Linked DNA regions of Homo sapiens. The protein of the gene in region 3 purifies or fractionates together with the protein of the main gene of each other region. This does not show direct contact. Each region holds a gene or a part of one and is shown on either strand. Other genes may lie near its edges. The genes, in order: OAT, TXNDC12, DIAPH2, PCCA, ALDH9A1, PRMT2 and EPS8L1.

Region 1 (4,530 bases), on a different chromosome or scaffold from region 3:
TTTAGCCAGAATACTGATTACGTCAAAGAGACTTCTGTTGGTAGAACTTTTTTTTTTTTTTTTTTTTAAAGGCCTGTATTTGTGAATGGTTACCTCAGGAAAAGTAAATATTTGTCAAAATAGCAAGAACAAATTTACTCCTCAAGTTGAATATTTTAAGTGGCTTTTGGACAACTTTACGCCGACTATTCTTTTAGAGTAAGAAAATAGTTTTTAAGAGTATAGGCTAAATTAACTTCAAAATGCAGCCTTTTGTGGAAATTCTACTGTAGGTATGTTCTAATGTAGATGGATGGGCTAGATGGAGGGAGTAATGGTAGCCTGAAGGACCCTGTTAATTACGTGGATAAAACCTTCAGTGTTAGAATTCTAGCTTGCCAAGAGCAATTTGTTCTCATTTCCAGGACCTGAGTATGGGCGTCAGGTAGATGCATGATAGCTGCCTGGAACACATTATTTTGACCTTTGAAGGCCATTAGATCTAATGAAGTAAACTCTTGATGAAGAGATGAGTTATTCTAGATGAGGTCAGAGAGTGAACACCCCCTCTTAGAGTTAGACTCAACCTGGTCAGGGATAGGTGATCCCATGGTCTTGATCACTTGCTACCTTGACTCCCTCAGGAGTCCTAAGTAAGACTGACCTCTTTATCTGATAAAGGCCCACAGGATGCCCAACCTGGGCTAGGTTCTAGGAATGCAAAGTGAATTTTACTGTTTTTTAAAGGAGCTTAGAGTATAGACTTATAGGCATAAAAACAAGTGGCCTGCAGTGTTAGGACCCGTTACAAGTCTGCACAGTCCCTGGGAGTCTCTAGGAGGGACTTAAATAGTAAATTCTATAGGGGAGGGTGAAAAAAAGCTAATATGGATGCTAATTATGCATAGAAAAAATAACCAAATGTTAATGGTTATCATGCAAGTGTAAAATTGCTGGTAATTTTCTTGTCTGTGTTTTCTAATTTTTTATCAACTGAAAAATGGTGTGTGTGTGTCTTTTTAAACAGTTTTAAAAATAAATCATGGCACTGTTGATTCTGATATTTCAGAAACTGGCTAGTTTTAAGGGCAAAAGGGAACTGAGTGGCCATTTTGTGCTGGATTTGGCACAGTAACATTAACCCATTTCATCCTCAGTGACACTTCAACCTCCTTTTACAAATGGGGAGACTGAAGCTCAGAAAGATTGACAGAATCACCCAGAGTTACTCTTCAGAACCACAGACAGAATTTAAAATCCCGGTCTCCAAACTCGGGATTTTCCGCTTGATTCTCCCGGTTTTGAAACCTTTTTGGAAGAGGCTGTTATTGATGTTGGCTATTTTTAAGTCCATCTTAATTCTGCTCTAAGATTTCTCATACAGTGCCAAGCACAGTAACTTGAACACAGAAGGTTCTTTAATAGAAATGCGTTTACAGGATTTTGATACATCATGGCTCATCCAGTTTCTGACCTTTCCCAGTTGAATTAAATATCCAGAATTCATCTTAAAAACCTTAAGAATAGCTGACTCAGGGGTGTGTGCCTGTAGTCCCACCTCTTCCTGAGGCTGAGGCAGAAGGATCCCTTGAGCCCAGGTGTTCGAGGCCAACCTGGGCAACATAGCTGAGACTCCATCTGTAAGTGAAAAGAAACAAAAACCTTAAGAATGAGTATTAGTAATGTTTTGAATGATATTATTTTGTCCCCAGTTATTCTTTAATAAAACTGCCTAAACTTAACAGGTAAATGAATTTTTCATCCCATTTCTGTTGGAAATTAGCTGTGCAGATAACTTTTATATAAAATAAGAATGTTGAATTTAGATAATCTCTGATATTCCTTTTTTTTTTTTTTTTTTTTTTTTTTTTTTTTTTTTTAGCGCTTTGTAGCCCAGGCTGGAGTGCTGGTGGCACAGATCGTGGCTCACTGCAGCCCAGAACTCAGGGCTCAAGAGATCTTTCCACCTTAGTCTTAGTCTCCTAAGTACCAGATACTACAGGTACGCATCGCCACACCTGGCTAATATTCATATTTTTTATAGAGATGGGGTCTCCCTATGTTGCCCAGGTTGATCTTTAACTCCTGGGCTCAAGTGATCTGCCTTGGCCTCCCAAAGCGCTGGGATTATAGGCGTGAGCCACCTTGCCTGGCCCTAGAAAGTTGTTACGGTTTAGAGCACCACTAAGTATTGCCTGAGTGTTTTACTGCTAATTTGATAGGCAAAAATTAATGTTCTAATTTTTTAGTTGATCAAACAATTTATTCATACTGAGTAAAGCATAAAGAGTCCAAGAAAGAAATCATACATGAGTGTTTTAGACTTAGCAGTAGTATTTTGGGGAAGTTACATATAGTACAGTTAGACATTTTTGCTAGCAGCTACCTCCAGTTGGATGATTCTTACATCACTTTTGTTTTGATTGTTGGTACCCACCCCTTTGAGATAAAGTCTGATGAAAGTTATGGACCTTCTTCTTGGAAAAATATACGTCTGCATGTAATTCTGCATTTTATTTCAGGAGATTTTGGACTCTCTGCAGACTGTCCCTGGATCTTGGGTTAAAAATCTGTATTCTAGACTGAACCGTGGGAAGAAAAAATAGTCAGTGAGTCTTTGGCAAACCGGAGTACTGGATTTTGTTTAGCAATTGCAAATTCCTGAACATACTGGATTTACTGGGTAGTGCCAAGTTTAAAGGGAAGTAAGCCAAACTCCAAGTATTATGTTTTGCTAATTTGGCAGCTCGAATCAAGAGTGGCTGTGAGATTATACATGGTTTGACTTGTCATTGGTAGACTTCTGTTGAAACATGAATTAACTAGTCTTTTAGAAAGTAAGTATAGATGGAATAAGTATGCCTAGTTTTTGGCAACTTTCTCCTAATCATGAATTTATCTTTAAGCTTTTTTTTTTTTTTTCCTTCCAGAGGTGATTCCTATGCACATGCTCTAATTTCCTTTTAATTATTAGTTTCTTTCATAGCTTAGTTTTTACTTCATGGCTTATCAGGATGCTTAATGGTAAATTGGGTACAAAGAGGTGTGTGAAGCCTTGTGGAGGGGCTAGTTTTAGGGCTGGGGGTGACTGGGGAGAGTAGCTATGGCTCTGACTTATGTGATGGGGCGGCAGGGTAAACACCAGCCTGCTCAGTGATGTTTAGACTTTAACACTCATACAAGTAACGGATTGTAGTTTGTAGTTTGACTCTCTCTAGTTTCTCAGTTACCTTTTGCTAACAATAGCTTTTTCGTTTGTTTGTTTGTTTTTTGAGACGGAGTTTCACTCTTGTTGCTCAGGCTGGAGTGCAATGCGCAGTCTTGGCTCACTGCAGCCTCGTCCTCCCAAGTTCAAGCGATTCTCCTGCCTTAGCCTCCTGAGTCGCTGGGATTACAGGCATGCACCACCACGCCTGGCTAATTTTGTATTTTCAGTAGAGACGGGGTTTCTCCATGTTGGTCAGGCTGGTCTCGAACTCCCGATTCAGGTGATCGCCTGCCTCTGCCACCCAAAGTGCTGGGATTATAGGCATGAGTCACCGCACCTGGTCAACAATATCTTTTATGCTACAATTTTTCAGGATAAGTTTTGTAGAAACAACCATCCTAGCAGAATAGATTGTTTTGTTTGGGAATCTCATATATGTGTGTGTGTGTGTGTGTGTGTGTGTGTGTGTGTGTGTGTGTATGTATTTATGTATGTATGTATATGTTGGTCTAATTCAACTTGCTGTGAACACTTTAAAGCTATTATAAGTTAACATTTTTTTCCTAGTCTTTTTGCCTTTCACCTTTGTTTATGATAAATTTGACCTACAGAAGTTTTAGATATTTGTGGCTAAATAAAAGATTTTAGGCTGGGCACAGTGGCTCACACCTTTAATTCGAAAACTTTGGGAGGCCGTGGTGGGCGGACTGCTTGAGCCCAGAGGGATGGACAGTTCCTCTGTCTCCTGCCCCATGCCTAGTCTCTGGCAGTCTTCTCTGATTTGGTCTCCCTGCCTCTGGTCTCTGCCCTACAGTTGTAGCTGTCTCATAGCATTGTGCCTGATGGTATCGGACTGTGGTAGGTGCTTAACAAATACTTAGTGTTTAGCAGGTACTCAGTCAACACACAGTGCATTAGCTCTGGAAAGAGTCTTACTCTTATTGATTGGTTGGTTGATTGATTGCCTGATTGACAGGGTATCACTCTGTTGCCCAGGCTGGCCTCAAACTCTTGGGCTCAAGTGATCCTCCCGCCTCAGCCTCCTGAGCAGCTGGGGGCTACAGGCACAAACCACCACACCTGACTCAAGATTCTCACTCTTTTTTTTTCTTTTATAGAGACTATGTTGCCTAGGCTGGTCTTTAACTCCTCGGCTCAAGCGATCCTCCCATCTTGGCCTCCCAAGGTGCTGGAATTACAGATGTGAGCTATCACGCCTGGCCATTTTTTTTTTCTTGAGACTGGGCCTTTCTTTGTCTCCCAGGTTGGAGTACAGTGGCACAATCTCAGCTCACTGCAGCCTCAACTTCCGGGCTCAAGCAATCCTCCCACCTCAGTCTCCT
Region 2 (4,530 bases), on a different chromosome or scaffold from region 3:
TTGTCTACATTTCAATTGTTCTGTAGCCACATGTGGCTAGTGACTACCATATTGAACAGCTCATTGCAGTAAGTTCTACTTTACAGTGCTGTTCTAGGTCTCTATTAGTAATAACCTTACGTGATTGTAAGGTTTGACACCTAGCTTCTGAGTGGCCTAGGTACATGGAGAATTTATTTTAATTAATTAATTAATTATTATTTTTTTGAGACAGAGTCTCACTCTGTCACTCAGGCTGGAGTGCAGTGGCCCCATCTTGGCTCACTGCAACCCCTGCCTCCTGGGTTTAAGCGATTCTCCCACCTCAGCCTCCCAGATAGCTGGGATTATAGGTGTGCGCCACCACACCCAGCTAATTTTTAAATTTTTGGTAGAGATGGGGTTGGCCAGGCTGGTCTTGAACTCCTGAACTCAAGTGATCTGCCTGCCTCAGCCTCCCAAAGTAATGGGATTACAGGCATGAGCCACTGTGCCTGGCTGAGAAATTTTATTTAACCTTATATTAATCTAGCTTCCTTGACTCTATCTTGTTTGGCATTGGACTTCTGTAAGTCCTTCTGTTTTAGGCATGCTTTTTTTTTTTTTTTTTTAAAGAAAAGAAACAGGGTCACCCTCTGTTGCCCGAGCTAGAGTGCAGTGGTGCCATCATAGCTCACTGTATCCTCGAACTCCTGGCCTCAAGCAATCCTCTGACATCAGCCTCCTGAGTAGCTGGGACTATAGGCACATGCCACTGCATCCAGCTAATTTTTAAATTTTTTTGTAGAGGTGAGGTTTCTCTATGTTGCCCAGACTGGCCTCGAACTTCTAGCCTCAAGTGATCCTCCTGCCTTGGCCTCCCAAAATGCTGGGATTATAGGTGTGAGCCACCACAACTGGCTAGGTATGCTTTTATAAGCATCGTAGAGGTACTTTTTTCTTAAACCAAGTCTGACAATTTTTGTCTTTTCACTTTAATTGGCAAGTTTAGTCCACTTATATTTGTTGTGATTATTGACAGAACAGCTCTTGTTTCTGTTATCCAGTTTCTACTGTTTTTTTCTGTGCTTTTTTTTCTTTTTGCCCTTTCTTTGGGGGTTGAATATTTGCTTGTTCTTATTTTATCTCCTTTATTAGTTTGGAAGTTGGCATTCTAGTTCTTTTCTTTTAGTAGTAACTCTTGAAATTTTACTTGCATACTTAACAAAATCTAACACTATTATACCCCCAGTGGTAAGAGGGACTTTAGAACATTTAATTTCAATCACCCACTCTTCACTTATAAGGAGTTGTCTCATATTTAGTTCTAATTTTAATTTTTTTTTGAAACTTAGTTATTTATTTTTTAGAGATAGAGTCTCATCCTGTTGCCCAGACTGGCCTCAAACTCCGGGGCTCAAGCAATCCTCCTGACTCAACCTCCAGAGTAGCTGGGACTACAGGTGCACATTGTGCCTGGCTTAGTTCTCTCTCTCTTTCTTTTTTAACTCTACAAATCGGGCATTATAAATTGCTATACAGACAATATTTACATATTTATCTACATGTTTGCTGGTTTATTTGCTCACTATTCTTTGTATCTAGGCCTTCCTCTGGGATCATTTCCTACCTGAAATATGTCCTTTAGCTATCCTTTTTATTTTCTCTGATTCTCTCCTAGGGGACTATTTCATACTTCTTCCTGTCTTTTCAAATCTCCAATACTTCTTCCATAGTCCTTGCTCTCAGTTAGTAATTATAGTCCCTCTTTACCAGAAGACAGAAGGAATCGGAAGAGGCCTTTCAAAAATTTTCACTACTGCATTTACCCACTAGTGTTCATACATGCTCCCTTTCCTGTTGTTACCTGATAAACCATCATTATTCCTAGCAAAGGCTAATCCCTCTACTTGAGTGCTAAATCCCGTCTCCTCTCACCGACTCACCAATATTTTACCAGTGACTCTCCCTTCTAATGTTGTATTACCCCTTTTTCCTATCTTTATTGTATCATTTCTATCAGCTTTCAGTTGTCCCTGGTACAGCAAAATTCTTTTCTTTTAGAGACAGAGTCTCACTCTGTTACCCAGGCTGGAGTGCAGTGGCATGATCTTGGCTTACTGCAACCTTCGCCTCCCAAGTTCAAGCAATTCTCATGCTTCAGCTTCCTGAGTAGCTGGAATTACAGGTGTGTGCCACCATACCCGGCTAATATATATATATATATATATATATATATTTTTTTTTTTTTTAGTAGAGATGGGGTTTCACCATGTTGGCCAGGATGGTCTTGATCTCTTGACCTCGTGATCCGCCTGCCTTGGCCTCCCAAAGTGCTGGGATTACAGGCGTGAGCCACCGCGCCTGGCCTAATTTTTGTATTTTTAGTAGAGATGGGGTTTCACCATGTTAGGTTAGACCAGGCTGGTCTCGAACTCCTGACCTCAAGTGATCTGCCTGCCTTGGCCTCCAAAAGTGCTGGGATTACAGGCGTGAGCCACGACACCCAGTCAAAAATTTTTTGAAAGAGTTGTATGTATTCGATCTAATTTTTCTCCTTGGACTGTCTTGGTCATGCTCTAATCATGCTTTCATCCTCACTGTAAATGGCAGCTCCATCCTTCTACTTGTCCAGGCCAAAAACCTTAGAGTGATCCTTGACTTCTCTTTTTGCTCTCATATCCCATATCCATAGCAAAATCCTGCTAACTTTGCCTTTGAAATATATCCAGAACCTATTGGTATCTTACCCCTCTACCACCCCAGCTGGTCCAGTCCACTATCATCTCTTGCCTGGATTATTGTAGTAGCCCCTTTATTAGTCTCCTTGCTTTTGCCTTGCTCCCCTGTATTAGTTTGCTAAGGCTACAGTAAGAAAGTACCACAAACTGTGTCTTTTTTTTTTTCGAGACAGAATCTTGCTCTGTCACCCAGGCTGGAGTGCAGTGGGGCAATCACAGCTCACTACAGGCTCAATCGATCCTCCTGCCCCTGCCTCCCAAGTAGCTAGGACTATAGGCATGCACCACCACACCTGGCTAATTTTTCTATTTTTTATAGAGATGGGGTCTCACTATGTTGCCCAGGCTAGTCTCAAACTCCTGGGCTCAAATGATCCTCTCACCTCGGCCTCCCAGAGTGCTGGGATTACAGGCATGAGCCACCATCCACAGCCCAAACTGTGTCTTAACAGAAATTTATTGTCTCACAGTTCTGGAGGCTAGGAGTCCAAAATCACAGTGTCAGCAGGATTGTTTTTTCTGAGGGCTGTGAGGGAAGGATGGAAAAATCACTCAGCTTATCTAAAAATGTCTATTTTGCTCTTACTTTTGAAAGATAGTTTGTTACAATTGACGAACCAATATTGATACATTATTATTAACCAAAGTCCCTAGTTTACATTCGGGTTCATTCTTGGTGTTGTACATTCTATGTGTTTTGACAAATGTATAATAACATATGTATTCGTTTGCTAGGACTGCCATAACAAATACACAGACTAACCGGCTTAAACAATAGAAGTTTATTTTCTTACAGTTCTGGAGGCTAGAAGTCCAATATGAAGGTCTTGGTAGGGTTGGTTTCTTCTTGTGGATGGCTGTCTTCTATGTCTTCACATGATCTTCCCTTTAAGTTTGTCTGTGTCCTAATCTCCTCTTCTCATAAGGATAAGGGCCCACCGCAATGACCTCATTTTACCTCAGCTACCTCTTTAAAGACTTTAAGATATGAACTTTGGAGTGGGGTGGGGGACACAATTGAGGCCATTAACAGTATGTATCCACCATTACAGTTTCATATAGAATAGTTTCACTGTTACAAAAATATCCTGAGCTCCACTTATTCATCTCTCTCCCCCAGAATCCCTGTTAACCACTGATCTGTTACTATCTCCATAATTTTGCTTTTTCCAATGTCATGTAATTGGAATTATGTAGTATATAGCCTTTTCAAATTGCTCTTTCCACTTAGTATATGTTTAAGGTTCTTCAATGTCTTTTCGTGGCTTGATTACTCCTTTCCTTTTATCACTGCATATTCATTCACTTTGTATTTCAACAAAACTGTATTTTTAATTTCTAGAAGTTCTGTTTGATGACTTCACAGATTTGACTTTCTTTTTTTTTTTTTGAGACAGAGTCTTGCTCTGTCACCCAGGCTGGAGTGTGGTGGCGTGATCTCAACTCACTGTAAACTCTGCCTGCCAGGTTCAAGCAATTCTCCTACTTCAGCCTCCCAAGTAGCTGGGACTATTGGCTTGCACCACGGCACCTGGCTAACTTTTTTGTATTGTAGTAGAGACAGGGTTTCACCATGTTGCCCAGGATGGTCTCGAACTCCTGAGCTCAGGCAATCCATCCACGTCGGCCTCCCAAAGTGCTAGGATTACAGACATGAGCCACCACACCTGGCCAGATTTGACTATTTATTTTGCATGCTGCATGCCTGTTTTTGTGATTCCATGTGTTATTTCTTTAAACATTTCATGCATAGCTATTTCTGTATTTTGTGGCTGATAATTCTAATATCTGAATTCCTCAGGGATCAAAATCTGTTTGTTGCTTGTGTTCT
Region 3 (4,530 bases):
TGTGAAACAATAGGCATAAAATATGCCTTCAGAATAGAAAATATGCAGTGATCTTTTCACTTCATGTTGGAATAAATTGTCCAGATCAAGGAATTAAGCTTTTATCCAAAATGACTTACACATCAAATTTTTTGGCCCCATGGAGTTTAGATTACCTACTTCAAAAACTCCTTTCTTTTATCCAATACATGTAACAATAGGATCATAAAAAGCAACCCATTGTTTCTTAACTTCCAGTACTATAATATTGCTCTGATGTTTGGATTAATGATTTTCCAGATATATTTTTCATGTCTTCTTTTTTATTTTTGATGTGTCTCTATATATTAAAAACTACTTATAAACATTAAGTAAAATTTTTAAAACCTAATGATTTCACTCTCAGTCTCAATGACTCATAAAGCTATTAAGTTTGGTAATTGCGTGGTCATTGTCTCTCAGTTTTGCAAATGTGTTTTTCACTAATATTCATTACTTTTAATCATCTACTGGCCACCTTTATACATACTTATCTATTTTGTTTTTGTTGCTTCTTTCAAGACTTGTTTCTTGCATTTTCTTTTTTTTTTTGGTCTTATCTCCATATATTTTCCTATTTATTATGACCTGTGATAAACTCACATTTAAGAGCTTTAGCTATGTTCCCCATCTGCCACTCGGAGTTCTTTTAGAAATTAAATTAGGGCTGATGGAACTATTCATATGGTTGGTAATTAACTGAAGTTTAGCTGAAATGGAAATTTTGCTCCGATGAAATATCCAATTTCACCATTAGACTGTAAAATGAAGCAAAAATATTTTATAAGAAATCTGAAAAATACTTTGTGGGACAAAGATAAAATAATATATTGCTTTCTTAATGTAATGAAAACTCAAGTTTTAGACTTTCATTAGAATTTCTTTACTTATTTATTAAGTGCGTGCATGCACACGCATGCACACACATATTCATGCTTAGAAAATAAATGAAAATGGTGTTTTCTCTCCTTAGTTGACTTGTGACACTTAATAAAACCCAGGTGCCATTTCTTTAGGTTCACAGCTTTTGTAGTGCAGCACAGCTGTCTGAATCAGGGAGGATAAGAGAGAGAAGGCATGGGAATATCCATACTGAGGCTTATACTGGCATATAGTATTCAAAAGAGCCTTTTAAAAAAAATTTCTCTTTTTCTTCACCTTAATTTTTCATACAAACATATTGGACAATTTAACCACGAATTCCAGACATCTCCAGGGAGACCCAGTGACATAAGTAGAATCTTACTTTAGAAAATCATATCAGTATGCGCTTTATATGTTATTCTTTGTTGAAGAAATACTGATTGTTCCCATATTTCTCCAAATTTATGGAATTTTTAGGGCAGGCTAATGGAGATATATCTGATCAAGGAGCAACAACTCCAAGATGCAGTGATTTCATATAAAAAACAAAGACAGATAACTGCATTTGAAGAATATTCATATAATTAGGTAGAACCTCATTGTGGGGGTATGGGTTTTTGGAAGATCATTGTACGTTGCTTTTTTAAATTAAAGATATATTCCATAGACATTCTGAATGAAGGTTTTTTTTTTTTTTTTTTAGTTTGGATTACAAAGGATTCTAGGAGATGAAAGAAGTCTTTTACTATTGGCAAGAGCAATTGACCCCAAACAACCCAACATGATGACTGAAATAGTAAAAATACTTTCTGCTATTTGCATTGTTGGAGAAGAGAACATGTAAGTATTGCTATATTATTATATTTGCTGCATGGAAAATGACACTTAAGAAATTAATAAGTCCTACTTTTGTTCTCTTTCTTTGGATAACTTTCATGAAAACAGTATTTTAGATAATTTTTGATTGAAATTTTTATCTTGCCTGTTTATATTTTGGCTTCTTTGTTGACATTATAGAAACTCAGTTTAAACAGATAAAATCCTAGTGGGAAATTCTTGAAAGTTGGATTCAAAGTGATTGAGCAGAATTTTGTTTTGCTGGAGGTACAGCAATCATTAGAAAGTGGACAAAAATCAGAGAGTTATTTTGGCAAATACACACACATACATACACAAATACTGTGCTGCATATCACACAATTTGAATAGATGCCTTTATTTTACATTATCTTATAATAGTATTTTACTTTATATGCCATGGTAAATGAAAATTATTTGTAAAGTGAAATAAACCCACCTGTTAGAAAAAAACGGTTGTTGATAATTATTCAAAGTGTATATGTGCCACCAAATGCAGCAAGTTGTTGCTGAACATGCATTTGATCACATCTTCTTATGGAAATAATATTGAATCAGAAGCAAACTTTCAGATTTGATGACATTAATAAGTCTAGTTTGTAATGAACCCTTGTGATAAAGAATCAAATATCTGCTAAGGACCCGAACCAAAATATTTCCTTGGAACACTTTGCGTGACAGTAATAATGTCAATTTGAGTCAGAACAGGACTATGCAAAGATTTAAGGATGTTGGAATATGTTGACTTTCTCATAACTGTTAGAGTAAAATGAGATGTTGCTTAGTGTTAGCTACTGTCCTCAGAAACCAAAAGACAAACACTAAACAAAAATATTATCATATTAAGTCTCACCTCAATGATAACAAACTGAGAATGAGATAACATATGTAAAAGCAAGGATCCTTAGGATTTTATTTTTTAAAAGTCAGTTTATACATGTGTAAGAAATATTTTTTAATCACTTAGATTTTCAATATTCATAAAATACAATGTAGTCCAGTATAACTGTTATGATTTAATTATAATTTCAGATATAATTTGATAAGAGTAGTATACTATATAGAGATTAATTTGTTTTAGGCATTGTGTGGAGATACCAATATTTTTGGTCAGGTTAATAAGTTTCTTGTGCTAGATAATTATACATTCTTCTTTAATCACCTGGGCTTTCCTTTTTAGAGTCTTTTTTCTTTTTCCATTGTCAAAAAATGTTGATTAAAAAAATTCTTTAAAAAATAATCACTCTTTCCAGAACTTTATTATAAAATTACAATCTGTTTATGCTCCAATAAACTGTTAACAATTATAGGTGTCATATTATGTTTAAGTGATATTAATGTTAACACATGAAATATCAAAACCTGAAAATTTAAATTTTAATGTTTATCACTTAAGTATTCTTTTTTTAATGTCACCCAGAAAAGTTACTTTCCTTAAGATTTTTAAAATCGAATTTTCCTTTTGATGCCCTAAAATTATTTAGAGCTATCAATATTTGCCTTAAAGAAATATACGGACAGGAACACAATTCCTATATTGTAATGGTCTTTCAGTTAGACTGGAGGAATCAGTTCAAGAAATCTATTTTATGTGATAGTGACTGTAGTTAATAACAGTGTGTTGTATACTCGAAATTTCCTAAGAGTGTATGTAGACTTTAATTGTTCGTACCACAAAAAAATGTAAGTAGGCGAGGCAATATATGTTAATTAGCTTGATTTAGCCATTCCAGTATGTATACATATTTGAAAACATACAATTTCCATCAAAAAAGCAAATGATAATTTTTAAAAATTCTAATGGTATATATAAACATCAAATACCAGAAAGAAAACAGGGAATACTGAAAGGACCGGTGCTCATAGTGTCTGTATAAGAAGTATTTCTCATTTCTGTTTCTTCTTTTTTCTCTACAGTCTAGATAAACTTTTAGGGGCTATAACAACAGCAGCAGAAAGAAATAACAGGGAACGATTTTCACCAATTGTGGAAGGTTTAGAAAATCAGGAAGCCTTGCAATTACAGGTGAGTTAGTTTTGTCTTAAATTGCTTCTAGAGTTATATTTAGAGTACTCATTTTGTATGACATCAACTCCATTTTAGCTGGCATTTAAGTAGTATGGAATGTAAAACTAAAATTTTTTCTGTTGCTAGTTTGTGAGAATTGCAATTTGTTTAAAATTAGGAAAAATACTTTTGAATTATTATAAATGTGGCAGTTATGGCTGTCATTGATATTTAGACAAGAATTTAGTAATTAATGTAATAAACCAGGGAAATTGAAGCCTCAGCAGTAACTAAGGTAAAAGGGCAAGCAGTTCAGCCAATGCCATTATCCTAACAAGTGTTAGTGAAGTCGGTGGGCTTGTAGAAATGTAAGACAATTAAACACATCTCTCTTTGTGCCATTCAGACAATATTCAAAGGTGTGACTCACCAGAATAGAAGGGATTGAATTGCAATTCTTAGGTTAGCGTTAATTTGATAGCCCTGTGTAGACACAACTTACTAAATGCCTCCTTTAGAAAATGACAAAACTCACTATCTTTACCTAGATGGTTTCAGGAAATGATCCATTTTATGAATAGCTCTGTTCTTGAGGGATGAGAATGCATATTTATTGGCTGAACTTATGGTATGAAGTCCTGCACTAAACATTTTAATTTGCATATATTATTTGATTTAATTCTCACAACAACCTAGATATGAAGGTATTGCTATAGTATCTTTGTTTTGCTTATGGGACGAATAAGTTGAATGAGATTAAATAACTGGTCTAACGTGACACAG
Region 4 (4,530 bases), on a different chromosome or scaffold from region 3:
CCAGCAGCAAGGCACGGAGGTTAGCCATGCAAAACTTTAAAAATGAGCAGTTACTGAGGACAGAACATTTATTAAATTATTAGAAAGAAGTTTTGGAATCTGAAGTATTTAAAAGCTAATCAAAATACTTCAGACTGTCAGGCACATCCTAGGGGTCTTGAGGATGGAGGAACTGAATCAAAGCTGCTGGAACAGCAGGACTTTGATGCCCAACATTGTAAAGGGGTGGGAAGAGAAGAGCGGAAGCTCACGTAGCCTTCCACCTGTGGGAAGAAGCCTTCCTAATAAACAGCAGCTCATCTGTCTGCAGCAAGGCAGAAAAAGGTCAACACAGCGGCTGTTAGGCCTTTAATATTTTAATTTAGGCAATTATCAAGGGACCACATGTAGAACCTCTTGTCTAGGATATCCACATGAGGGTATAATGATGGCTTTATTATACGGTGACATCAGAAGACAAGCGATAGTTTCATTTTCTTAAAATTCACACTACTATTATTCTCTTTGTAAGGTTGTAAAAGGAACACTATAACATACCTGAAGGGCTTTTATTTCTGTATTTGCAAGCACAAACAAAAATATAGATATCTGTATTCGTATTCACATTCATATACAAAAATCTTAATTATAAACAAAAATCATTCAGCACACTTACGAAATATACTTGGCTTTCTATTTTCTGAAAACATATTTCAGGACATAAACTGATGTTCTATGAAATTCACAGTGTTGACAAAAACTAGAAAAAAATTAATGGAGCAGCTTTAAAAGCAATAAAATCACAATCTACCTTTTCCCCACATTAAAGAGCCCCAAAATGGCAACTAGTAAACGGGTTACATAACAGAAAATATATCTGTGAGTTTTCATTTTCTTAATTTTAGTACTAAAAAGTGAAAGAGCTAATTTGACCACTATGTCATCTTTAAAACCACAGCATGCTTGCTAATGCTGTGTTTACAAACGAGACTGATACAAGTTCTAAAACTTCTGACTTTAACTACATCCTATCATTTGCTACATAAACTGCTACAAAGCTAGGAAGAACTTAGATGTTCAACCCACAAATAAAATAACATAGACAATAAAGAATATTTATTATGTTCTTCTACAGTTCCTTACTTAAAACTTCAGTTGCCTTGAATAATATCATCCTATAAGGTGTTACCTACAGATCTTAATTAAATATAACTGTCTTTGTTATTTACTAATATTATGATCACAGAAGTTATGTCATCTTAACTTTAAAATACATACGATAAAATCAAGATATATATAAACACGTATCTTTGTATAAGCAAATCAGTATTCCCAATTAAAAACTGTACCACAGTATGAAAACTCTGCTTTATAATTTACTATTTATGCTGCTTTTTCCAAGTAATAATCAGCTATATTTTTATTTCTTAACAACCAATCTGAAGTCAGATCAAGTCTCCATTCCTTCAATGAAAGGCTATACAAATTTGCACTAAAAACTTTAAGAAAAAATTCAAATGAAATCAGAACCAAATTTCTGAGCAGAACAAAACTGTGGTCTGAAAATAACAAATTTACAAAACATGATGATCAAAAATAAAAAAGGAAATCTTCACCTCTGCCATATTAATAAATCTCAGGCTTAATGAAGCATGTGAAAAGTACAAACCATAAGTTAACTCTTAAGTATGCATTCTTGTGACCAAAAAAGGTAAGAGCCAAAAATTGTTTTCTAAGGTAAACTGACTGCTCTAGTTTTAATAAGACAAGGAAGAAAAACAAACAATAACAACCACAACAAAACACCCAAGCACCTCTGTACGAGATTCTCAAACCACTGCTCAGAAACCTCTAGCATAATTAAAATTTCTGTCTTCAGTACCACAGTGGACTCTGTGAAACTATCAGACATCTCCCACCCTTCATTCTCAATTCACCTCTCCCCCTAAGCACAACTCCCAGCCCGCCATGTCTACCTGACAAGTGACAGCCCAATCTGATTAAATGCTTCCAAGGGAGGGGACTCATGGGCCTCCATGACAGGCCAAAAGTGATCACCATGGAGATACATAATTACAGCTGTCAACGCATCTACTGTCCTGCTGACATCAATTTGATTGCTCCCAGCAATAATGATAGACAAAGCTTAGTGTGCACTCTCCTGCACCCAATCACTTTATCTACTCCTTGGTCCATTTAGCTGACATGCAACATTCACACAAGCAAATAACAGCAGTAAGCAGAACATTTAAGGCATTTTAATTGTTTTTTCTTTCTATGGATGGCTCACAACTGCAAATGTTATTACATAAAACTCCTGCTGCAGCATTAATTGAAGAAAGATTTGGTGGGATGAAGACTGTAGGGGGTATAGTTTGTCCATTATCACTTGTACTTTCAACAGGTCTCACGTTTGAAAATTGCAAATTGCAAAAACTTGCGAGGGCAAAATGTTTGACATCCTGTTAGCTATTACAACATGGTGAAAACTTCTAACAACTAGAGTAATCATTATGAATTCTTATTTAATACTTCTTTTGTTTGATTAAAAAAGTGTTTAGATATGTCCCTATGATACTTGTTTTCTCATGTGCTATTTAACGTCACATAATGCCTGTTAAATCTTCACAATTTTTTTTCTGCCTTCTGGCTTTGAACACAGCATGGAGTCTCCAAGCACAGAAAGGGTCAAGTCCCTTTAGAAAGCACATGGGCAAAAACAATTTAAAAAGTGAAATAAATCATATATCCAATAATATCTTCAGATTTAGAATTCTTCCTGTAATCTTTCACCATCTTCATGCCAGTAATCAAAATGAATAATTTGAATATTCACAGATGGTACAGCCTTGTCATCTACTAGCTAACATAATGTCATATATATATATATATATGCACTTATTACCTTGATTAAGAAAAAGGGTATGTCCTTGCTCTTTTTCTGCAACAAAAACTATTTTCAAAATAGCTATTAAATACAGAAGAGCTATGGAATAAAATGGACAGTGGTCACTTTTATTTAACTGATATAAATATTATTACTCTTTAAAGTCCATGAGGTTTAATAGACTGAGGCACACTTTGTTTGCCTTAATTCAATCTCCTTAAATTTCAATTAAGGAGCTGATTTTGTGCTTGAATTTCTTGACAAGTGACTATATAGCAGGGTTGGACTCGATTTATTGAAAAGATTAAATTGTAACACAAAACATCATTTCTCATTCTTAGGATTCACAGCCTTTTTTATTATAATTTTCGAAAGAATTGGGAACACTGTAAGCTATCATTTATATCATCAGATGTCCCCAGGCTTCCCCTGTCCAGTGAATCCTGACTTTCTTGAACACCACAAAATACTGAAAAAAATTTGTTTTCAACACAAAAACCATGATTCCCATGAATTTCACTTGTCCTTCAATTTACACCCTTTGGTGTTGACATGCTTTAACATAAAAGTATGACATAAATCACGATTTTAACCCTTCAGCTGGTATTACAGCTTAATGACTTACACCAGGTAGATGTAACGGTTCTTGGTACTGAGACAATCTCCCAATAGATGGTAAACCAAAAGACTTGTAGGGGTCCTGAAAGTTCAAAGGAAAGGAAGCACAGTCTTTGAAATATAAATCAGCACAAGTAAGGTTAAATATTTACACAATGAAGAACCATTTATAGGTCTATTTTCAACATATGGTATTTACCAAATCACAGATTTCAGAATATTATTGTCTTTTACGCTAGACAACTTAGAATGTACTTAAAAATCAAACAGAACTGTAAGCAGAATTTAGCCTGACCTTGTTCATACTTTATTGAAATTGGTAAAATTCCAACATTTTATAAAACTTCTTAGAATGCCTTGGGCAAAAAATAAAATAACCTAGGCCCTACATCAAAACATACTCAAGTTTAGAACAACAAATGTGGTATACTAAAGATATTTGTTTTTCTTACTTCTCAAAACAGTTCACATATGGTAAAACTTGAGAATTTGGGTTCTTCAAATAAAGACCTGAAAAAAAAAACTTTGCACGCTACTAGATATGCACTTCATTTGTAAATATCTTAGATCATCAGAATAAACAGGTTCAGTGTCATAAGAATGAAAGTAATACTACTTAAAATATGAAAAAAGCAAGAGCAATACAGTCACGCCAAAACATATTTTTGAACTCCTTGAAAAATATTTCAAACCAGCTCTCAGTATTCTTAAACACAGACACTGATTTATTTTTAATCTTGACAGACATTTTTGATGTCGAAAAGTAAAAATAGTACAAATGTTACCTTGCATTCTTGTTTTAGTCATTTGAAAAAAAGCATTTAGAAGTACTGAACTGAGAGTTTATGAGTAAAACCCAAAATTAAAATTATAAATTAAGAGTACATGTTTTACTAAAAGCTTTACAATTTAAATTTTGATTGTTATTTTTATGTAATAATAAAGGAGAAAATTATACAAAAAAAAGGTTGGGAAAAATTTTAAGTAAATATCTGATCAACAACTAATGTGTACCCAAGGTGGGCATTTTTTTAAAAAACCCATGG
Region 5 (4,530 bases), on a different chromosome or scaffold from region 3:
GTGGGAATAGGAGCATGGAACTACCCCTTTCAGATTGCCTCTTGGAAGTCGGCTCCAGCATTAGCCTGTGGTAAGAATGAATTATCCCTCCATTTGAGAGCCATTCGTTCATTCTCTCGTTCGTTCTCTCCCCATTCTCTACCTTTCACCTCTCTATAAACACACACTTTAAATCGGAAGGGGCCTGCTCTGGGATATTCAAAGCCTCAGAGGACATGGCTCGTTCCTGCCCTGTCTTGCCCCTCAAGGAGCTTATAGTTAAGGTTGTACACAATCATGTCTAGATATTCTCAGGTTTTATTTATTTAATTTTGTATATGAAAAGAAATTTAATTTTTTCTTATTAAATTGAATTAGATTTGTGCTACTTATAAGTTCTCTTCCTTTCTGGACAAGAATTTTAAGGTAGGAGTTAGCACTTAGGAGTTTGACTTCATTTACGAAGCAGAAGATAAACTCCTTTCTTCATTTGGGTCTTAAGAGAAATGATAAGCAAGGCTTTGATAAGCTTCTTATCAAAGAGGAGCTTTGGCTGATTGACATAAAATAGTTTTCTTACAGTATTTAAAGAGAAGAATCTTTGAGGAAAGAAGACTAATTTTATCTTAGAAAAAATTGTAATGTTAGAAAGCATTACTGTTAGGACATTATATTGAAATGCAGCTTTTGTCCTGTTGCCATTGCATGTTCTTGTTTTAGCCTATTTCTCTTTGAGATACAGCTGTGAAAGAGGAAAAATAGTCACTAGCTTTAATAGTCACCAGAATTAAGTCACTAGCTTTGGGGACTCTCATCAAGTGAACCATTCTGGTCTTCAATGTCAACTTTTATAAAATGGAGCTAATGATACCTACTTCATACTGCTGTTGAAAGTGTTAAATGAGATAATATATGTGAAAAGGCCTAGATATGCAAATGTGAGACTGGGCAACTGTAGGGTTTGGGATCTGTTTAATGAGAGAAACCAAGATGAAAAGGACAAGAGTTGTTTACTTATTGATATGGTTTGGCTGTGTCCCCACCCAAATCTCAACTTGAATTGTATCACCCAGAATTCCCATGTGTTGTGGGAGGGACCCAGGGGGAGGTAATTGAATCATGGGGGCTGGTCTTTCTCATGCTATTCTCCTGATAGTGAATAAGTCTCATGAGATCTGATGGGTTTATCAGGGGTTTCCGCTTTTGCTGCTGCTTCATTTTTCTCCTGCCGCCAATGTAAGAAGTGACTTTCACCTCCCGCCATGATTCTGAGGCCTCCCTAGCCATGTGGAACTGTAAATCCAATTAAGCCTCTTTCTGTTCCCAGTTTCGGGTATGTCTTTATCAGCAGCATGAAAACAAACTAATATGGTTATTAATAACATTTTTGATGTAGGATTTGGTTGGGGAAGAGGAAACAATTGGAATCATTTTTGAATTGTCCTCTAGTCCTGTTTTCAGGGGATCACTGGTCTTAGAAAGTCTTTTTATGTTTGTGTCTTGGGTTTATGCAGGTAATGCCATGGTCTTTAAACCTTCTCCCTTTACACCTGTTTCTGCATTGCTACTGGCTGAAATCTACAGTGAGGCTGGTGTACCTCCTGGGCTCTTCAATGTGGTGCAGGGAGGGGCTGCCACAGGCCAGTTTCTGTGTCAGCATCCCGATGTGGCCAAAGTCTCCTTCACTGGAAGTGTGCCCACTGGCATGAAGGTGAGGACAAAACCAGTATTGGTCAACACACATGGCATTTGGATGTGGCAAATCCGGTCCTACCCAGAGTATATTTTGGAGGCTTCTCTTTTGATTTTACCTAGCCTGAATTGGGAATGGGAAGGAGATTTTATTAGGCAGAGGTGTGAAATTTCCTGTAAAAGTATGAAGGGGGAAAGGGAGTACACATGGGGTGATTTGTGTTAGGCCAGGTAGGGGTGGAAATTAACAGCCCCAGCCTAAGGAGAGGATGTGTCTTAGTGGACAGGGGCCTGGGCTGCCACTTGTATTGTTTAGTGACTTAATTTCTTGTATAGAAGAAAGGATTTTTACTCAGGCTATTTCAGATCCATTATTTTGACATTAATTTGTGTTCTGAACTCTGTCAGCCTTAAACACAGTAACAATAACACAAAAGAATTTCTGGCTATGACAATCCTGTGAATTGACAATATTTTTTATTTTTATTTTTTTGAGACAGGGTCTCACCCTGTTGCCCAGGCTGGATTATAGTGGTGTAGTCACAGCTTACTGCAGCCTTCAACTCCTGGGCTCAGGCAGTCCTCCTGCTTCAGCCTCCTAAGAAGCTGAGACTACAGTCATGTGCCACTGTGCCTGGCTAAGTTTCTTATTTTTCTGTAGAGATAGGGTCTTGCTATGTTGCCCAGGCTGGGACAATATTTTTTAAATGAACTCCCTCTTCTAATGTCAGTGCAACTCTGTGGATTCTCTTCAGTTTTCTGGAATAGAATATTTTAATAGCCAAAAGGCAAAGGATATTGACAAGAATAAGGCTACAGGTCACAAACAGTTCAAGATGATTTTGTAGGTTCAGGGCCTAGTTGACTTAGCATGCAATATAATTTGTGTTAAAGTTCTGAATACCTTGTCCTTGTTCTGCAAGATCATGGAGATGTCAGCTAAAGGAATCAAACCTGTTACCTTGGAACTTGGAGGCAAATCTCCACTCATCATCTTCTCAGACTGTGATATGAACAATGCTGTAAAGGGGGCGCTGATGGCCAACTTCCTCACACAAGGCCAGGTATGTACCTGTCCCTGGAAGAGGTGTAAAAGGAATCTCTACCCCCTCATCCAACAGTGTGTTTTAAAGCTTTTTGTTTTACAATACTTTCAGACTTACAGAAAAGTTGCACAAATAGTACAAAGAATTCCCATGTACCTTTGAACCAGATTTCTCAAATATTAACATTTTAACAGATTCACTTTATCATCTTCTTTATCTGCCTGTACATACGTAGGCATATTAAGTTTTTCTGAACCTTGAGAGTAAATTGTAGACATAAGGCCCCTAACCTCTAAATATAAAGTTCCTAAAAACAAGTGCATTCTTTTACATAAGCACGGTACACTTAGTAAAATTAAAAAATTAACATTGATATAGTACTGTTACTGAATCTATAGCCCTTACTCAATCTATAGCCCTTATTCAAATTTTGCCACTTGTTTGACTAATGTCCTCATAGTAAAATAGAACAAAAATGGTTTTTTTTCCGGTCTAGGATCCAGTCAAGGATGATGCATTGCCTTTAGTTGTCTTGTCTTTAATCTCCTTTAGCTGAGAACAGTTCTTCAGTTATTCTTGTCTTTCAGGACGTTGACATTTTGGGAGAACAGGCCATTCATTTTGTAGAATGTTCCTTAGTTTGGGTCTGTCTGATGTTTTCTGTTAGATTCATATTATGAATTTTTGGCAAAAATACCACAAACATGATGTCATATCCTACTCAGTGGTGATTTAACTTTGATCACTTGCTTTAAGGTAAGTCCTCACTGTAAAGTTACTGTTTTTTACTTTGTGGTTAATAAGATCTTGTAGGAGGTATTTTGAGACTATCCTGTTCCTCATCAAACTTTCATGCAGTAAATACTTCTATCACCACTGACGATTCTTGCTGAAAACAATTTTTATTATGGGGTTGCAAATGGTGATTTTCCAATTCCATCATTTCTTCTATATTTGTTCACCTTCTACTGTAAGAAAGAACTTGCCCTTCACCCCTGTTTGTTTTCCATTCATTTATTTATATCAGTATGGACCCATGGATTCTTATTTCATTCTATGTGTTATAATCCAATACTATCATTATTTATTTATTTTTTATTTTTATTTATTTACTTACTTATTTTTTGAGACGGAGTCTAGCTCTGTCCCCCAGACGGTAGTGCAGTGGCACGATCTCGGCTCACTGCATCCTCTGCCTCCCAGGTTTAAGCGATTCCCCCGCCTCAGCCTCCTGAGTAGCTGGGATTACAGGTGCCCGCCACCATGCCCAGCTAATTTTTGTATTTTTAGTAGAGACAGAGTTTCACTGTGTTGGCCAGGCTGGTCTCAAACTCCTGACTTCACAATCCACCCACGTTGGCCTCCCAAAGTGCTGGGATTACAAGTGTGAGCCACTGTACCCGGCCTTTATTTTATTTTTTTATTGAGACGGAGTCTCACTCTGTCACCCAGGCTGGAGTGCAGTGGCACGATCTCAGCTCACTGCAACCTCCACCACCTGGGTTCGGGTTCAAGTGATTCTCCTGTTTCAGCCTCCCAAATAGCTGGGACTACAGGTGTGTGCCACCACGGCTGGCTAATTTTTTTTTTTTTTTTTTTTTTGAGACAGAGTCTTGCTCTGTCGCCCAGGCTGGAGTACAGTGGTGCGATCTCGGCTCACTGCAAGCTCTGTCTCCTGGGTTCATGCCATTCTTCTGCCTCAGCCTCCCAAGTAGCTGAGACTACAGGCACCCGCCACCACGCCTGGCTAATTTTTTGTGTTTTTAGTAGAGATGAGGTTTTACCATGTTAGCCAGGATGGTCTGGATCTCCT
Region 6 (4,530 bases), on a different chromosome or scaffold from region 3:
ATATCACAGTAGCTTCAAAAATATGAAAGGCTTAGAAATCTAACAAAATGTGATCTGGATGCTGAAAATGATGAGATGATAATGAAAGAAACCCCAGAAAACCTAAATAAATGGAGAGATAAGAAGGCTCAACCTAGTAAAGACGTATGTTCTTTTTAAATTGATCTGTAGACTTAATAAAATTCCAATTAGAATCCAAGCAGGATTTGTTCTTATAGATAAGCTCATTATGAAATGTATATGGAATGTAAAGGAACTAGTGCTATGGTTTGTCCCCACCAAATCTCATGTTGAAATTTGATCCTCAGTGTGGTGGTGTTGGGAGGTGGGGCCTAGTGGGAGGTGTTTGGGTCATGGGTGTGGATCCCTCATGAATAGATGAATGCCCTTCCTCGTGGGTAGATAAGTGAGTTCTAGCTCTTTCAGGTCCCAACAAGAGCTGGTTGTGAAAAAGAGCCTGGCACGCCCACTTGCCTCTGCTCCCACCCTGTGGTCTCTGCACGTGCCAGCTCCCCTTTGCTTTCCACCGTGAGGGGAAATAGCCTGAAGCCCTCACTGGATGCCCAATCCTGAACTTTCCCAACCAGCAGAACCATGAGCCAAATAAACCTCATTTCTTTATAAATTACCCAGCCTCAGATATTCCTTTTTGGCAACACAAAAATGGACTAAGAGAACTAGAGTAGCTGATAGAATTTTTTAAAAGAAGGGTAAAGTTGGAGGAACTATACTACTTGATTTTGAAGCTACAGTAATCAGGACAATGTGGTGAAGGGACAGACACGTAAGTCAATGGAATGGAGACGAGAGATTTCTACAAATATGGTCAATGGGTTTTTTTTAACAAAGGTACAAAAATCAATTTAATGGAGAAAAGACAGTCTTTTCAGCAAATGTTACTGGAATAGTTGTCATCCATATCTAAAAAACAACACCTCAACCTCACATCTCATACACAGCTGAACTTAAAATTGATCATAGATCTAAGTGTGTGAAATGTAAAACTATAAACCTCCTTGAAAAAATCATAGAAAATCTTCATCACCTGGACTTGGGCAAAGACTTTTTACTCTAAAAGCGTGATCCATAGCAGAAAATGTTGATAAATTGAATTTCATCAAAACTAAAAATGACTGCTCTGCAAAAGGATGATGCTAAGAGAATAAAAAAGACAAGCTAAGATTAGGAGAAAATATTGCAAAGAACATATCCAGTGTGTGTTCTGAATATACAGAGAAATCTCAAAACTCAACAGGAAGAAAACAAGCCAATTGAAAATGGGCAAAATACTTGAACAGACACTTTACCAAAGTGGATATACAGATATCAAATACACACATGAAAAGATGTTCAGCATAGCCATCAGGGAAATGCACATTAAAGCCACAGTGAGATATCACTTACACCCATTGAAAAATGACTACAATAAAAAAAAAATCTGATAGTAATACCAACTGTCATCGAGGATGAGGAACAGCTGAAAGTCATGCATTGCTGGAGGGAACATGCCACTGTGGAAACAGGTGGGTGCTTTCTTATAGACTTGTATGTGCACTCACCTTATGCCCAGGAGTCCCTCTCCTGTGTGTTCAACCCAGAGATATGCAAGCTGTGTTCACACAAAAACCTGTATGTGAATGATTATACTAGCTCTCTTTATAATTGCAAAAAAAAAAAAAACAAAACCTGGAAACAACCCAAGTGTCCTTCATCTGGATAATCCTTAAGGATAAACTGGTGCGTCCACACAGTGGAATACCACTGAGCAGTGAAGAGGAGCCAGTTATTGAAACAGGTAATTTGGAGGAACCCCAGAAACGGTACAGTGAGTGAAAGAAACTTGTCTTGAAAGGTTATGTACTGTTTGGTTCCATTTGTATGATATTCTCAAAAAGACACAAGACCATGGGGATGGAGACCAGATCGGTGGCTGGAGAGGCTGGGGTCGGGGAGGGCATGACCACCAGAGAAAAGGGTGAAGAGTGTTTTGGGTGGCAGAGCTGTGTGTATGCTGGCTGTGGTTGTGAGGACAAAATCCACACAAGCGCTCAAGTTCGTAGGCTGTACGCCAGAAAAGCTGTTTCACTACATAACTGAAAAAATAAGATTGAAAAATAAGATGTATATATTTTTTGTGTGCGTGTGTAGAAAAATACTTGAAGGTAAACTGCAGAGTGATAACAGTGGTTCCTTCTAGGTACTGGGTTAATATGTGATTTTTATGTTTGTTTGAGCTTTTCTAAGTTTTCTACATTTTCCGTACAAAACATGTATTACTTCTGTAATAAAAGCAGCTTGAGATTATTTAAGGAAGCAAAACACTTCTGTTGTTTCTCATCAACTACAGGATGAAGTGCAGGCTCCCTGGGTGGTTTGCAGGGGCCACAGGCCTTGGCCCCACCTCGCTGGTGCTCCCTCTACTCCTTTCTGTGTTTGAAGCAAGTTCTGGTTCAGACAGAAAGCCTGGCCTTTGAGGGCGTTGGGTCCCCACTTCCTCAGTCATAGATGTGATGTGCTTCCCTTGACTTGGGACCTTCTGAGGGATGCAAGGTGGACCAAAGGACCCGTGAATGGCCAGGGCATGCCTGCGTGGCTTTCGGTTTCTTAAGCAGTGATTTCAGTCCACTTAAAGGGTGTGAAAATTCTGAGAATGCTACGGACCAAATATATTTTATGTAACAGTTGGGACCCGGCAACACTTCAGGGCTCTTTCAAAATCTGGTAGCTACGAGCTCTTCCGTGACTGAGATGGGACAAGAGTGAAGATTTGTCCTTGCTTTTAGCTCTGCTCCAGTTCATAGTTCTAATGGGAAATTATGTGACTTAAACCCAGGCTGTGAGATGCATCAGTGACGTGTGGGCATAAAATAAACCCTCGAGATGTTCTCTTGCATGGTACACTGGCCTAGGCAGGAATATTCTTGAGGCTAAAACTGTAGAACTGTCAGACTAGTGTTACGAATGTGGTGGTGAGAGGCCTGTGCAGCCGCGGGGCCTGTGATGTGTCTCCTGTGTGTCTTTCACTCCTATGCAGTTTGAGTTCATGATCGAGTCCATCCTGTATGCCCGGGATGCCTGGCTGAAGGAGGACGGGGTCATTTGGCCCACCATGGCTGCGTTGCACCTTGTGCCCTGCAGTGCTGATAAGGATTATCGTAGCAAGGTGCTCTTCTGGGACAACGCGTACGAGTTCAACCTCAGCGCTCTGAAGTAAGTGTCCACAGCTGGGACTGGCACCGTCTTGTGGGGCCTCCTGGTCCACAGTCTGCAGGTGGGCCAAGGCCCTGGGAGATCCCATACGACGGTTGGATAAATGAGGGTACCTGTGCACCCAGATAGGACAATCTGTTGTAGCATTGGAGTAATTAAAGCAGTATGGTGCTATAACAAGACAGATGGGCAGAGCAGGGTAGAATGCAAGGAACAAAAATTTTCGTATGTGAAAAAGGTGGCATTACGATTAGGAGGGAGTGAGGGCCAAGTCAGCAAATTATTCTGGAGCAGTTGATTAGCCCTTGTTCTCTCACGCCATACGTGAAAACTTAATTCTGCATGGAATCAGCGTCAGCGACAGACATCCATGGGGGCCTGTGTGCACCATCTTAGGTGGAGAAATGAGCAGCAACAATGGATGGAATGGACCCTGGGCTAGATAGAATCTGGCAGTCTATGTGGCAGAAATCAGCAAAAACACGATTGTAAAAGCAAACAAGTAATTAGAGAAATCACGTGCTGTCAGGTCTTGGAATCAATTAGAAAGAGATGACTAGCCAGATGGAATTGCAGCCCAATCATGTGAACAGGCAAACCGCAAAAAATAAATAAAATTACCAATAAATATATGAAAAATTATAATGTTGTTAGTAGTTAAAATGCGAATTAAAATACATGCTGTTTTCCCTACCAGACAAGCAAAGAGTAAATTAAAATAGTAGCCCAGGCTTGCCTGGCAGTGGCAGGGAGGTGTGGCTGCCAGGGCCTTAGAGGTTGGCATCAGGCTGCCCACCCCAGTCACTGCCAGAGCCTCCCACCTGAGTGTTCCTCCCGGCACTGGAAGCCAGTGGCCGTCCAGAGGAACGTGATTGAATTGCTGTATATCCATCTGGTGGAGCACTGCTGTGTGTCTGTTAAAAAAGAAACCATAGGTTTTTAGGGATATGTAATGATATTTAGAAAGGGTTTAAGAGACAGTAAAGCTTGGCAGAATAAACCGTGTATACAGAATGGATGTTTGCTTGCATAAATAAATTTATATAAATATGTCTGGGGGATAAAAATAAGTATATCACAATGCTAAGACAGGCATATGGGGAATTTAAGCTTTTCTTTATACTTGTCCATAGTTTCCAATTTTTAAATTTGTAATTTTTTATCAGAAAAATAAATGTGTAAATATAGTGGAATCTTTATTAAAACATTCACTTTTATTTGCTATTTCAGAAGTTACTGCTTTGCTTATTTTTTACAACATTTCTGTGGTAAATAATCGGTGACTTACAAGCCTAGTGCAGCCAGTGATGGGGGTTGGCA
Region 7 (3,585 bases), on a different chromosome or scaffold from region 3:
CGCCCAGCTAATTTGGGTATTTTTTAGTAGAGACAGGGTTTCACCATGTTGGCCAGGATGGTCTTGATCTCTTGACCTCATGATCTGCCCGCCTCAGCCTCCCAAAGCGCTGGGATTACAGGCGTGAGCCACCGCGCCCGGCCTAGCTAGTGTTTTTATTATGCTTATGAGTTATGATATATAAAGCCCAGTGCCTATTAGATGCTCAATAAATGACAGCTGTTTCTAGCTGTGTGATGTGGGCAAGTCATTTTCTCGCTCTGAGCCTCATTCTCCTCTGTAAAATGGAATCGATGGTGGGATAGTACCCACTACATATGCCTACAGCACAATGCCAAGCAACGGAGGGAGCAAATATATTCAGTCTGTTATTCTTGTTTCAAATTTCTATTAACAGTATTAACCCGGCCCCTGCTGTGCCCCCAGCTTGGCTCTAACCCCAGCTCACACCAGCACCCTGCAGCCCAGAGCAATGGGGCTGGCTGCCTCCTTATCTCCAACCCTCCCGCTTCTCCTCAGTCACCGAGACTTGGAGCCAGAATCTGAGCCTCAGCTGGAGTCAGAGACAGCAGGAAAATGGGTCCTGTGTAATTATGACTTCCAGGCCCGCAACAGCAGTGAGCTGTCGGTCAAGCAGCGGGACGTACTGGAGGTTAGAGGAGCGGGAGGCTGAGGGGCAGGAATTAGCCAGCCCTAGCTGCAGACAGGCTCTGAACCCTCTGTTCTTTACCACACCCAGGTCCTGGATGACAGTCGTAAGTGGTGGAAGGTTCGGGACCCAGCGGGGCAGGAGGGATATGTGCCCTACAACATCCTGACACCCTACCCCGGACCCCGGCTGCACCACAGCCAAAGCCCTGCCCGCAGCCTGGTGAGCCAGCGCAGACGCTGGGATCTTGAGGGTGGAGAGGCTGGGACCAGATCCTGGGAACAAGGGGCGTGGGGATCAGCTGTCAAGAGTGCTGGAGCAGGTGGTGACTGGGGGTTCAGAAATGCATCTCCAGAAAGGGGAGAGGCTGGGACTCTGAGTCCTCTCCCTAACCCAGGTACTCTCCTCTCCTTCCTTTCAGAACAGCACTCCTCCTCCACCACCAGCCCCAGCCCCGGCCCCACCTCCAGCTCTGGCTCGGCCCCGCTGGGACAGGCCCCGCTGGGACAGCTGCGATAGCCTCAACGGCTTGGACCCCAGCGAGAAGGGTGAGTGGTGGGGACGCCGGCTGCGGGGAGCGGTCCTTATCCTTGCTTTCCAGGCAGAGAAACGGGGGCTCAGAAAGAGCAAAGGGACTCCCGTCCCATTCTGGGGACGCTGGAGCGCCCCCCCGCCCCGCCCTCTGGCCCCAGGACCCCTCGCCCTGAGCCCGCACTCCCTACCTCCCGGTTTCCCGCCTGCAGAGAAATTCTCCCAGATGCTCATCGTCAACGAGGAACTGCAGGCGCGCCTGGCCCAGGGCCGCTCGGGACCGAGCCGCGCAGTCCCAGGGCCCCGCGCCCCGGAACCGCAGCTCAGCCCGGGCTCGGACGCCTCCGAGGTCCGCGCCTGGCTGCAGGCCAAGGGCTTTAGCTCCGGGTGAGTGGGGCCGGGGCCCTCTCGGCGCGGGTTGATACGGACGCTGGGAGCGGAGCGTTCCGATCGGCCGGGAGTCGGGGGGCGGCAGTCGTGGAGACCACAGGGAGCCGGGATTAGCCCGAAGTGAGGGTCTGTCTGGTAGCAACACCCAATGGCAGGCTGTGATTGCCATGTTTTTTCAGACTCCGACTGGATTCCTTAGGGAAATCCCGTACCCTTTGAAAGCAGGATGCGGCCACGCCCCCCGGGTGGCAACATTGTGATTGGTGGGTGGGGTTCAGGAGGTGTCGGGCCTGCCCCCGCTAGAGCTAGAATGCTGTTCTGATTGGACCATCGCCGGGTGGGCGTGACATGATTGTCCGGGCTGGGGCATCCGCCGACCGGCCTGACCGCGCCCGGGCTGCCCTCGCTCAGGACCGTGGACGCGCTGGGTGTGCTGACCGGGGCGCAGCTTTTCTCGCTGCAGAAGGAGGAGCTGCGGGCGGTGAGCCCCGAGGAGGGGGCACGTGTGTACAGCCAGGTCACCGTGCAGCGCTCGCTGCTGGAGGTGAGCCGGACCGCTGGTCCCTGGGTCTGGGTAGGGTTGGGATGACGAGGGCTCGGACGCCAGGACAAAGCGATTTCCACCCCGCCCTCCAGGACAAAGAGAAAGTGTCAGAGCTGGAGGCAGTGATGGAGAAGCAAAAGAAGAAGGTGGAAGGCGAGGTGGAAATGGAGGTCATTTGACCTGCCAGGCGCCCTTCGCAAAGAGTGACGAGGCCCCGTGGGAGAACGGACTCCTCAGACTCTCCCCAATAGCGGAAGTCGATCTTCTGAAGGATGGCCAATCTGCTCCGGCCCTGGTCTTCCCCCATCCCGGTGGACAGACTTAACGATCCTTGCTGCAGTCCCTCCGGAGAGGATCTGGACTGGCTGGGAGTGGGGAGGGCGTGGAGACAGTCTACGGAAAGCGCTAGCAGACCCCCGAGAGGGTGCAGTGGAGCCCTGAGCATTGTAATATGCGGCCCAGCCTATAAACAGCCTCCGTGCTTAGCAGATGGTGTGCCAACTGCTGTCCTCTACCCGGCTACCAGGGGGCTCAGAAACCTGCCCCTCGACCCAGTCACAGCCTCATGGAACCTGGAAAATGTTCCACCCTCTTTGGTTTCTCTCTGAACCCTCCTTTCCATCCCCAGGGTCCCAAACCAGGCTCCCTCCTGACCTCCTAGCCAGCCTAGTCCAGCTTGCCCCACCTTCACGTTTCCCTGGCTCGCGGCTGCTGGGCATGAGGCTTTGTGTCTCCCTTCCCGCCTCACCAACGTTCTCACTTCATTCCTTCCTGCGTCCTGGCCCTGCCCTTCTCCAAACGCTCCCAAGCGTTCAACCTCTGAGGTTTGCACCTGCTGTCTCTGCTGGCTGAAACGGCCATTCCCTGCCTGGCGAACTCCTGTTCAGCCTCCCTGGCCCAGCTCAAACACTCACTGTGGGGAAGCCTGCCCTCATCCCCGAAGCTAGTTTCCCAGCATCCACTTCTCCATTTTGTCCCCCACCTCCTGCCACGGCCCTACCAGGTAGAACTGGCTGCCTCCCAAGCATGCCACAGCTTTCTGGCCACTCTTTGTTCTGGGAGATGGCAGCCAACTGAAAACTTCCTAATCCCTCAAGAACTAGCTCCTTCTCCCTCTGGCAAGCCCTGTAACTTTCTTTTCCCCATTATCCAGGTGGCTGGTAAGGTCTGCTTTTCTCTGGATCCCACTGTTTTCCAGACTGGATATTCTCTGCCTTTGGGAAGAATGGCCCTTTCTCTTTCTCCCCTGGCTCTGCCTTCCCCAGATTACTGAGGGCCTCTGGGCCTCTGGGCCTCAAGCCTCTCCCGGAGTTGTTCCAACCTGGGCCACCAGATGGCGCCCTCCAAGATGGGAAAGGATCAGAGAGACGCCCCCCCACCCCCACCCCGCCCCCCGCCCTTGGGGCAGGCAGGAGTTCTCAGTCCCCACTTTGCCACCTCCTGCCTGGTTCCTTCTGGTTCCTTCCTTCCT

Evidence for each region.
Region 1: the proteins of DIAPH2 (region 3) and OAT fractionate together in Homo sapiens (co-fractionation; one large-scale study listed by BioGRID). This does not show direct contact.
Region 2: the proteins of DIAPH2 (region 3) and TXNDC12 fractionate together in Homo sapiens (co-fractionation; one large-scale study listed by BioGRID). This does not show direct contact.
Region 4: the proteins of DIAPH2 (region 3) and PCCA fractionate together in Homo sapiens (co-fractionation; one large-scale study listed by BioGRID). This does not show direct contact.
Region 5: the proteins of DIAPH2 (region 3) and ALDH9A1 fractionate together in Homo sapiens (co-fractionation; one large-scale study listed by BioGRID). This does not show direct contact.
Region 6: the proteins of DIAPH2 (region 3) and PRMT2 purify together in Homo sapiens (co-immunoprecipitation; one large-scale study listed by IntAct). This does not show direct contact.
Region 7: the proteins of DIAPH2 (region 3) and EPS8L1 fractionate together in Homo sapiens (co-fractionation; one large-scale study listed by BioGRID). This does not show direct contact.

What each region holds. Positions count from the first base shown.
Region 1 is NC_000010.11:124,412,404-124,416,933, reverse strand, and holds part of OAT (ornithine aminotransferase, mitochondrial isoform 1 precursor), read left to right. Parts: intron 1-1,861; exon of another isoform or gene 1,862-1,981; intron 1,982-2,501; exon of another isoform or gene 2,502-2,816; intron 2,817-4,530. UniProt on the Homo sapiens protein: Catalyzes the reversible interconversion of L-ornithine and 2-oxoglutarate to L-glutamate semialdehyde and L-glutamate.
Region 2 is NC_000001.11:52,044,534-52,049,063, reverse strand, and holds part of TXNDC12 (thioredoxin domain-containing protein 12 precursor), read left to right. Parts: intron 1-4,530. UniProt on the Homo sapiens protein: Protein-disulfide reductase of the endoplasmic reticulum that promotes disulfide bond formation in client proteins through its thiol-disulfide oxidase activity.
Region 3 is NC_000023.11:96,914,853-96,919,382, forward strand, and holds part of DIAPH2 (protein diaphanous homolog 2), read left to right. Parts: intron 1-1,585; coding exon 1,586-1,722; intron 1,723-3,656; coding exon 3,657-3,765; intron 3,766-4,530. UniProt on the Homo sapiens protein: Could be involved in oogenesis. Involved in the regulation of endosome dynamics.
Region 4 is NC_000013.11:100,301,960-100,306,489, reverse strand, and holds part of PCCA (propionyl-CoA carboxylase alpha chain, mitochondrial isoform a precursor), read right to left. Parts: intron 3,567-4,530; coding exon 3,492-3,566; intron 740-3,491; exon of another isoform or gene 656-739; intron 1-655. UniProt on the Homo sapiens protein: This is one of the 2 subunits of the biotin-dependent propionyl-CoA carboxylase (PCC), a mitochondrial enzyme involved in the catabolism of odd chain fatty acids, branched-chain amino acids isoleucine, threonine, methionine, and valine and other metabolites.
Region 5 is NC_000001.11:165,677,647-165,682,176, reverse strand, and holds part of ALDH9A1 (4-trimethylaminobutyraldehyde dehydrogenase isoform 1 precursor), read left to right. Parts: coding exon 1-70; intron 71-1,493; coding exon 1,494-1,690; intron 1,691-2,594; coding exon 2,595-2,735; intron 2,736-4,530. UniProt on the Homo sapiens protein: Converts gamma-trimethylaminobutyraldehyde into gamma-butyrobetaine with high efficiency (in vitro). Can catalyze the irreversible oxidation of a broad range of aldehydes to the corresponding acids in an NAD-dependent reaction, but with low efficiency.
Region 6 is NC_000021.9:46,655,711-46,660,240, forward strand, and holds part of PRMT2 (protein arginine N-methyltransferase 2), read left to right. Parts: intron 1-3,034; coding exon 3,035-3,210; coding exon of another isoform or gene 3,211-3,214; exon of another isoform or gene 3,215-4,530. UniProt on the Homo sapiens protein: Arginine methyltransferase that methylates the guanidino nitrogens of arginyl residues in proteins such as STAT3, FBL, histone H4. Acts as a coactivator (with NCOA2) of the androgen receptor (AR)-mediated transactivation.
Region 7 is NC_000019.10:55,085,322-55,088,906, forward strand, and holds the end of EPS8L1 (epidermal growth factor receptor kinase substrate 8-like protein 1), read left to right. Parts: intron 1-397; coding exon of another isoform or gene 398-437; exon of another isoform or gene 438-519; coding exon 520-652; intron 653-739; coding exon 740-871; intron 872-1,070; coding exon 1,071-1,197; intron 1,198-1,392; coding exon 1,393-1,567; intron 1,568-1,981; coding exon 1,982-2,114; intron 2,115-2,206; coding exon 2,207-2,293; 3' UTR 2,294-2,602; downstream 2,603-3,585. UniProt on the Homo sapiens protein: Stimulates guanine exchange activity of SOS1. May play a role in membrane ruffling and remodeling of the actin cytoskeleton.